Regions from separate parts of the Homo sapiens genome. Here region 1 is linked to region 2. The links come from fine-mapping of genetic effects on plasma protein levels. Region 2 holds a variant in brackets. A gene starts in the other region. All regions are shown on their reverse strands.

Region 1 (4,139 bases), not on the chromosome of region 2:
AAGAAAAAAAAATAGAGAAAAAGGGAAATTACAACCACATCTATATTCTTTTCCCTTCCTTGCTTCATCTCCCCCTCCCACAAACCCATATTCCCTCAACCCTACTGCCCACCCCTTACTTATTTTTGTATGCAATAATGGTATTGGACACACAAGGAGAAAAACAGAAACAAGCAAAATGACCAAGTGTAAGCTTTATTACCTTTCCCTCCTCAAAGTCCTATCATCCGTATCAATTGAGACTACCTTATCAAGTCAATCAGAACCTTTGCTAATTCTGGGAAAAGCAGAGGACTATCCTTCCTTGTCCTGGAAGGACAGTACTCCCAAATGGTAGTGGTGAAGAGAGTGGGCACTGGTGTCAAACCTGGTTTAAATCTCGTGGCTCTGCCACTTACTAGCTTTGTAAACCTCAGTTTCTTCATCTGAAAAGCAGGGATAATAATACCTCATAGGATGTGAGGATCGATTCAGGTAAAGTGCACATAGTAAGACCTCAAATTTTGGCACTTGTTGCTGTTAAGCTGTATTAGGTCAAAACTATTAATTGATTAAGATCCTTCATATCTGTTAATTATCTGTGCATCAAAAAGACTTTATGGGCCGGGCACAGTGGCTCATGTCTGTAATCCCAGAATTCTGGAAGGCCAAGGTGGGCAGATCCTTGAGCTCAGGAGTTGGAGACCAGCCTGGGCAACATAGCGAGATCTTGTTAGCCAGGCATGGTGGTGCACGTCTGTAGTCCCAGCTATTCAGCAGGCTAAGGTGGGAGGATTGCTTGAGCCCAGAAGATGGAGGGTGCAGTGAGTTGTGACTGCGCCACCACACTCCAGCCTGAGTGATGAGAGACCCTGTCTCGAAAAAAAAGTCTTATGGTCAGGGGCACAGTAGCTCATGCCTGTAATCCCAGCACTTTGGAAGGCTGAGGCAGGAGAATTGCTTGAGCCCAGGAGTTTAAGACCAGCCTGGGCAACATAGCGAGATCTTGTCTGTGAAAAAAACAGAGAATTTCCAAGACCAGGCATGGTGGCTCATGCCTATAATCCCAGCACTTTGGGAGGCCGAGGCGGGTGGATCACTTGAGGTCAGGAGTTCTAGACCAGCCTGGCCAACATGGTAAAATGCTGTCTCTTCTAAAAAAAAAAAAAAAATTAGCCGGGCATGGTGGTGGGTGCCTGTAATCCCAGCTACTCAAGAGGCTGAGGCAGGAGAATTGTTTGAACCTGGGAGGCAGAGGTTGCAGTGAGCCAGGATCACGCCATTGCACTCCAGCCTCGGCAATAAGAGTGAAACTCTTGTCTTGAAAAAAAAAAATATTTCCAATCTTAACTATTTGGTCAATAATCACCTAATGAGCAGTAAGACATTTTACCTAATGACCAACCAGTAGTTGCTCAATAAATAATAGGTGGAATCAATGGCTAACAATGTGAATAACCAATGCATGTTATGAATCAATAACCAGGTAAGTCAGTAACAGTTCATGTAAGCAACACTGGCTGGCTTAGCAACTGGGTTTTAGATACCAGGACTTTTCAGATCCGTCAACAAAGACCCTGGCTCATCACCAAACACTTACTGGTTGCATCTCTGTGAACACTGAAGAGAGGCTATTCCAAATATCCTCCAGGCCAATCCTGACCCGTTTCCAAAAAGCCAGGGCTGGGCAGGGGCTGGCGGGTGGCAGGCTGGGACTGCTTCTGAGGTGGATGGTGGGGAAGGGGGTAGTGGTGGTCCTGGTACTGGTGGTGCTCTGAGAGGCACAGTTGGTGTCAGTACAGAGACTTGTGTCCAGGGGGCACTCTTCCCGAAGTCGGTTGCAGGGACATTGTTGATAGGTGCAAGGCTTGTGCTCCGTGCGGAGCTGGCTCAGCGCCCCAACTCGAAGGCGCCCGGAAAGGCCGTGCAGCTTCCCAGACCGGCTCCGGCTCATGGTGCCCGACTTGCAGTGGCAGTGCCACGGGCCCCAGGGCATCAGCACCAGCCGCAGATCCTCAGGAGATGGCATGGCTGTGGGTGAGGGTGACGGCCACCGGCTCGGGGTAGACCCAGGTGTGGACCACTGGCTCAGGGTGGCCTGCGAGCCTGGCAGGTCCTCAGTAGACCTCCCGGGGGAGCGCGGCAGGCTTGAAGTCAGCCTGATTTCAGGCTCCTGACTATTGGCTATAAACCTCGTGCTGGAACTCCCCGCTGTATTGGGAGTCGCACTGGGAAGCTCTCTGCTGGTGCTATCCTTTCCGGCATTAATCACAACCCCCTCTTCTGAAGACCCATCCTCCTCGTTAATGGCGGACGACCGGCTAAAGCCGGTGGACACCGTGGCGGCCAAGAGCTCGGCAGCCGCTGGTCCAGCCAGGCGGTCGGCGTCGGCCATGGCATCATTCTCGTCCTCTAGGATTATCCTTGTCTTCCGGGGAAGACCAGTCCGGGCGGTGCTCCGGTAGCTGCGGGTCATGGGGCCCCCAAAGCGTAAACTGACCCGCTGCATTTCGGTCGGAGTCTGGGTCAGGCCTTGGGCCCCCGCCGCCCGGGGACCCAGATTCAGCAGCAGGACCCACAGCAGCGCGCCGGCGGCGGGGACCATGGGGCTGGGCTCTTGGGGTTGGGAGGGTGGCCAGTGAGGCAAGCCCTGCCTCCTACCTTCGCTCCCTCCCTTCCGCTGTAGACCCACCGGGTCGTTTGAACCGAGGCCCGCGGGGAAGGGGGTGGGGTTCGACGCGCAGGCGCGCTCGCGCGGGCCGCGCGGGGTGCTCCTAAGGAACCTCTGCGGCAAGAACTCTGCCAGAACCGAAGGTTTGGGATGCAAGGGGTGGTGAAAGAGTCGTTCACTTCTTTGGAGCAGAGCTTAAATGTCTCATCGCAGTTTATTAGCCTCTACAGTTCTAAATTTACTAAAGAGGGCAAAAATACAGGTTTTGAAAGCACTCCTTCCCAGGCTCACAGGCAGCAGACATGACTTAGAAGGAAAAAGGGCATACAGCGGTTCTTCAAGATTTAATGAGCTGACTCTCCTGGCTCCCAGCAGGCAGGCTGGCTGTCAGGTAAGCCTCTTCCATCCAAGGTGGAAGGATCACAGTCCCTCCAGTTAGACAGGAGGAAAATTAGGACCCAAAAAGATGAAGTTATTTGCCCAAGGTTCTACAGCTAAAGTAGGATTAAAACCCAGAGCTCTGGCCGAGCGCGGTGGCTCACACCTGTAATCTCGGCACTTTGGGAGGCCGAGGCGGGCAGATCACGAGGTCAAGAGATCGAGACCATCCTGGCCAACATGGTGAAACCCCGTCTCTACTAAAAATACAAAACAATTAGCTGGGCGTGGTGGCGTGCGCCGGTAGTCTCAGCTACTCGCTGAGGCTGAGGCAGAAGAATGGCTTGAACCGGGAGGCGGAGGTTGCAGTGAGCCGAGATCGCACCACTGCACTCCAGCCTGGCGACAGAGCGAGACTCCGTCTCAAAAAACAAAAAACAAAAAAACCCAGAGCTCTGCATATCCCATACAAAATGACCCTACATTCAGCCTTCCGTCCCAGCAACTGGAATGAAAGTCACCCAGCAGATCAGTTTCCCAGCCTCAAAGCCCTGCTGAAAGTAGGGTCATGCAAAGGACAAAATCCCACTGAGAAGTGAAGATCCGGTGGTACTGAGGTTGGGGATAAGATGATTTACAAAACAGTTCAGATGTTTCAGGGATTCAGGTGTAGGCAGATCACTAACTGGTTCTAAGGCCTTTTATCCAGTCCTGTGCTATGTCCCTCCTGAGCCATGGAGATCCCGGTCCAGCCTAGGAGAGGGAGAGGGGGAGGAGAGAAGTGGTTCAGGGGGTAGGACTTGGGTTTTATTTTCTGGTTTGGGGAGAGAAGCCAGGTGAATTGGAAGAGCTAGATGATTGGGTTGAGTCATCATTTAGCACTTTTGCTCCCTAACACCCTCTCCCCCACTGGATATCATCTGTTCACTGCCAACACATCTCTTCCTAATTTCTAGGGCCAGTCTGAATCTCCTCTGCACTGTGATTATTCCTTTATTCCTTATTGCCTCTGCACTTATATGTATAGGTTTTTTTTTTTTTTCATTTATTCTTGTTGGATGCAGTAGTGTCCTTCATTTCTTCTCTGGGTGTGTGCAGTTTCCCCATATAC
Region 2 (4,527 bases):
CTATTTGCTTCTGCCATTCTCCCCTATAACAGAGAATAGACATAATTGGAGCTTCATATTCTGCTCGCCACCTACAGGAGCAATTTCCTGCTCACATGGGCACACATGAAGACTGGTGGTAAAGAGAATTCCCACTGAAGTTAGAGATATCCAACAATGGTAACAATCAGGCACTAGGCCTCTAACCTATTGACCTTCTGCTTTTTGTTGGTTCTGTGCTCCAACTCTTTGATTGTCTTCAAGGTTGTGCCTCATTTGGCAGATACCTGCTAACTATGTGCTCATTTGAAATATTCAGGATTAATCTGTAAAACTGACTTTACATAGGTTGTTGAATTGTCTTGTTTTGCTGGCAGTGAAAAAAAAGATACTGAAACAAAATCCAACACAACTGGGCTTCATACATAGAATCCATTTCTCCTGTTTCTGCAAAGATTTATTTTTCATTGTTTCAATAACTTTTGACAAATGAGCACTGGAGGAAAAGTGCTGACAAGTTCAACTTTAGTAGTTCAAATGTTTTCTCAATTTTGAAAACTTACAAAGCATATCTAGAAAAGAAATGATGCAAGACAGTTGTTACAGAATAATTACAGATTTACTCTTAAAGGATAGCAAAATTGCTTATGCACTACATTTAATGAATGTAAGCTCCTTCTACATAGTATAGTTAAAATAAACCATACACACCTCAGAAATGACAGGATGAGATACACTTGTGCCTACAGGGCTCATCATAACACTGCTCTGCTAGATGAAATGACAGAACAGGCAGGGATAAGAGGATCCCCACATTGTTGCTGAAGAAGGTTGCTTTAACTTGAGTAGGTAGAATTCAGACTTAAAAAGATGAGACAACAACTTCTAAACTGATGGAGGAGCTATAAATATTTGGGAAGCCACAAGCAGAAACTCCCAGCTTTGCAAATAGCTATAAGAAATGGGGCAAGTTGTTTTAAACAAAGATTCTCATCTGACTGCAAATCTGAAAAGACAAGGCAACAAAATATATACTTATCAGAGAGTGACTACTGCCTGGCCTTGAGGAGTTATCACTGTATGTGTACAGGACAGAAAGGAGGGGAGTTTCTTGTTCCGCCCTCCTCTTCGGCTGGCCATGCAGATCCTTTAGTTTCTCAATTTACTGGGGCTTTCAAACATGTTGGGCCAACTGACAGTAAGAAATACTGTTTCTATTACAGCCCAGCACATACCTACAAATATGAAACCGTAAAAGTAACCAAAATTAAAGTTCAATAAACTGGCACTTCTTTCTTATTTTTAGTATTTGCCATGCAGGCACTCTATTTTCTACTCTGTGAAACTGTCTTCTATTTCTGTAACAATAGGTAATAATTAAATGTGTAATAAAGATGTCTATACATTACAGGTAAAATTAAATACACATATATTTATCTATATAGATTCATACAGATAATATGATATTATCTATTTAAATAAGTGTTAATCATGACTCTCCAATGGGCTGTGACCACAGTTTGAAAAAAAAAATAAGAAGACACGATGACTCCTTCAACAGCATGAGAAAGCTCTCACAGGAGCTCCACTGCCTCTCACCTTCCAAAGGGGCACCTGGTGCCTTGCCCACATTCTCTCAGTACCCATACATGCCGTTTGTGCTGGCTTCATTTACACTGATTACTCTAAGTGTTCTGACATTTTCTCTTTTGCTCATTTTGTATTCTCAGCTTGAGTGAAAATTAGAACAACAGGGGCCATTCCTGCTTGACTCATGTATCTTCTTTCATAGCTCCTCCCAGGATCTAGCACAGTGTGTCCCTTCCACTGGACTGTTGATAAATGTCATTGACCGTTAA[G/T]GCAATTGCATGGCAATGCAGAAGAAGTATAATTTGATTAACTGCAAGTACTTGTAAATGCAGACTTTTTTTTTTCTTAACTAAAGGATTTTTTTTTTTTTTTTTGAGATGGAGTCTCGCTCTGTCACCCAGGCTGGAGTGCAGTGTTGCGATTTCGGCTCACTGCAACCTCCGCCTTCTAGGTTCAAGCAATTCTCCTGCCTCAGCCTCCCTAGCAGCTGGGATTATAGGAGTGCACCAGCACGCCTGGCTAATTTTTGTATTTTTGGTAGAGACGGGGTTTCACCATGCTGGGCAGGCTGGTCTTGAACTCCTGACCTCAGTTGATCCGCCTGCCTTGGCCTCCCAAAGTGCTGGGATTACAGGCATGAGCCACTGCGCCTGGCCAAGAATTTTTGTCTATAAAACGGAAGTAAATATTCAAATGAAAAATATGCACTCTGTCCATGATACTTTCTACCATTTCATTGTTCATTCGTGCCTCGAATATATTTAGTGGTTACTGTTTGCCAGAAATTGCTTTAGAAGCTGGGCATATATAGTCCATGCTCTCAAGTAATGTGGACTACAAGGCAAGTAATAGGTTTTTCTCAGAATTGCAGTTTATTCAAATGAATTGTCAATGTGTCTAATTTTGATTTGGCTGTTGCGGATTTCTTGTGTTTACTTTGTTTCCCTCAATATCATTATATAATCTAAAATATGACCTGGCTTTAAAAAAAATGCTTACCTTACCAAAGGTGCACTCAGTAAATCCCCTTTACTCCCCATCCACTGTAATCTTTGGACTTCAAGTATATAGAATTAATTATAGTCATGGGTTTATGAATACTATCATCATACGTCCATTCAAGACTCATCCATCTGTCTACCTAACTACCTATCGTATCCAAATTGATCTATAGATTTAATATTGTACCAAACATAACAACATACTATAAAGCTATTATAATTAAGGTGGTATTTAAAAGTGTCAATGGTCAGGGACACTACTTTATAAATTGACCAGTGGAACAGAACAGAGGACCTGAGGTAAATTTGTGTACCTTTTTCTTTATGTCAGAGGGGATATTGTAGATCACTGGGGAAAGGAGAGACCATTAAATAAGTTGAGCTAGGAAAAAATATGGATCATCAACATTGACTACAGATGGATTAAGAACTTAAATGTCGAAAGCTAAACTTAAAAATCTTTAGAAGAATACAGGAGAATATCTTTCTAAACTTAGGTACAGAAAATTTGTTTTGTTTTGTTTTTGAGATGGAGTCTTGCTCTGTCGCCCAGGCTGGAGTGCAGTGGCACAATCTTGACTCACTGCAACCTCTGCCAGGGTTCAAGCGATTCTCCTTCTTCAGCCTCCCGAGTAGCTGGGACTATAGGCGCGTGCCACCACGCCCGGCTAATTTTTGTATTTTTAGTAGAGATGGATTTTCACCATATTGGCCAGGCTGGTCTTGAACTCCTGACCTCATGATCTGCCTGAATCTCCTGACCTCCTCAACCTCCCAAAGTGCTGGGATTACAGGCGTGAGCCACCATGCCTGGCCAGATTTCTTAAACATGATACAAAAGTACTAATTTTGGGAAGATTAATAAATTTGACTACTCTAAAATTAAGAACTTGTGCTCATCAAGTCATGTTAAAGAAAAAAAAGACAGGCCAGATACTTGGGGAAAATGTTTGCAGCACACCTAAATGACAAGGATCAGAATTAAACCACATAAAGAATTGCCACAAATTAGAAATGATAAACAGCTGTCTTGTCTTCTATTCTCACCTACTTTCCCCTGCTCTTTTATTTTTGACTCTGATTCCCTTATCCAGCCAAAAACAAATTGGATATTGTCTGAACAAGTTGCTTACTTCTACATCTGTGCCATTTCCTTTAGCTAGACTACTTCTGCCACCACCAGCTGGACCACTGACATTCCATATACTTCTCTTATCATTCCCAAGAACCATCCTTCATGAATTCAACCCATCACTGCTATTCCCTCAGAGTTCATAGGGAATCAATTTAAATTTGGTTGCTATGTTCTCCTCTTCCTCTTCCTCCTCCTCCTCCTATCTCTCCTCCTCCTCCCCCTCCTCTCCCTCCTCCTCCCCCTCCTCCCCCTCCTCCTCCTCCTCCTTCTCCTCTTCCTCCTCCTCCTTCTCCTCCTCCTCCTTCTTGCTCTTCTATAGGCTGGCCTTGAACTCCTTGGCTCAAGCCATCCTCCTGCCTCAGCCTCCTGAGTAGCTGGGACTACAAGCATTCGCCACCATGCCTGGCTTTACATATTCTTTTGAACTGATTTTTTAGACATCCTGTCTACCCTGTTACATTTCAATTTTTCCTAAATATAAGAACTCTTGTGTTACATTCTGTTTTCATGGTCTTCCTTCTGCCTGGATTTTTTATCCCATAGCTTAGCACAGTGTTGTGCACGTGTTGGGTACCTAGCAAGTGAAAGTTTCTTTCATGGACTAACATTGCAAACATAAAGATTTTGCTGAGTTTAATCATAAACTCTTCAAAAGTAGAACAAAATGAAGGTGGATTTATCCAAGGAAGTATAAAGAAAGAAAAAGGCAGCAGTTCACACAAATAAATACCTAACAGAGATCTCAGACAAGTTATGTAGACATATGGAAGAAATTTAAAAATATCCATTTACAAAGAAATTGTGAAGTAGGAAGAAAGCTAT

Direction of the effects. Alleles are on the strand shown, and positions count from the first base shown. The strength of an association depends on the size of the effect and on how common the allele is.
With allele G in place of T in region 2, the plasma level of the protein whose gene starts at base 2,681 in region 1 is higher (weak association).

What was found. PIP is the posterior inclusion probability: the model's chance that the variant is causal. Protein levels are from antibody-based Olink assays in UK Biobank. Linkage for the fine-mapping came from a reference panel and not from the study's own genotypes, which makes the PIPs less certain.
Region 1: it holds the start of C1orf56, and the variant in region 2 is fine-mapped to the plasma level of the C1orf56 protein (UK Biobank, PIP above 0.99).

What each region holds. Positions count from the first base shown.
Region 1 is chr1:151,046,293-151,050,431 of GRCh38, reverse strand. C1orf56 (chromosome 1 open reading frame 56) reads right to left here and starts at 2,681. Exons shown (of 2, transcript NM_017860.5): 1 at 1,580-2,681. The coding sequence starts at 2,584. It overlaps BNIPL (BCL2 interacting protein like), which reads right to left. Exons shown (of 10, transcript NM_138278.4): 10 at 2,712-3,781. The coding sequence ends at 3,745. RefSeq lists enhancers at 1,784-2,023, 2,304-2,353.
Region 2 is chr2:179,872,035-179,876,561 of GRCh38, reverse strand. No RefSeq gene overlaps it. Among named protein-coding and RNA genes, the nearest start is that of ZNF385B, 13 kb to the right of the region's middle. The variant G/T (reference allele first, on the strand shown) is at 1,839.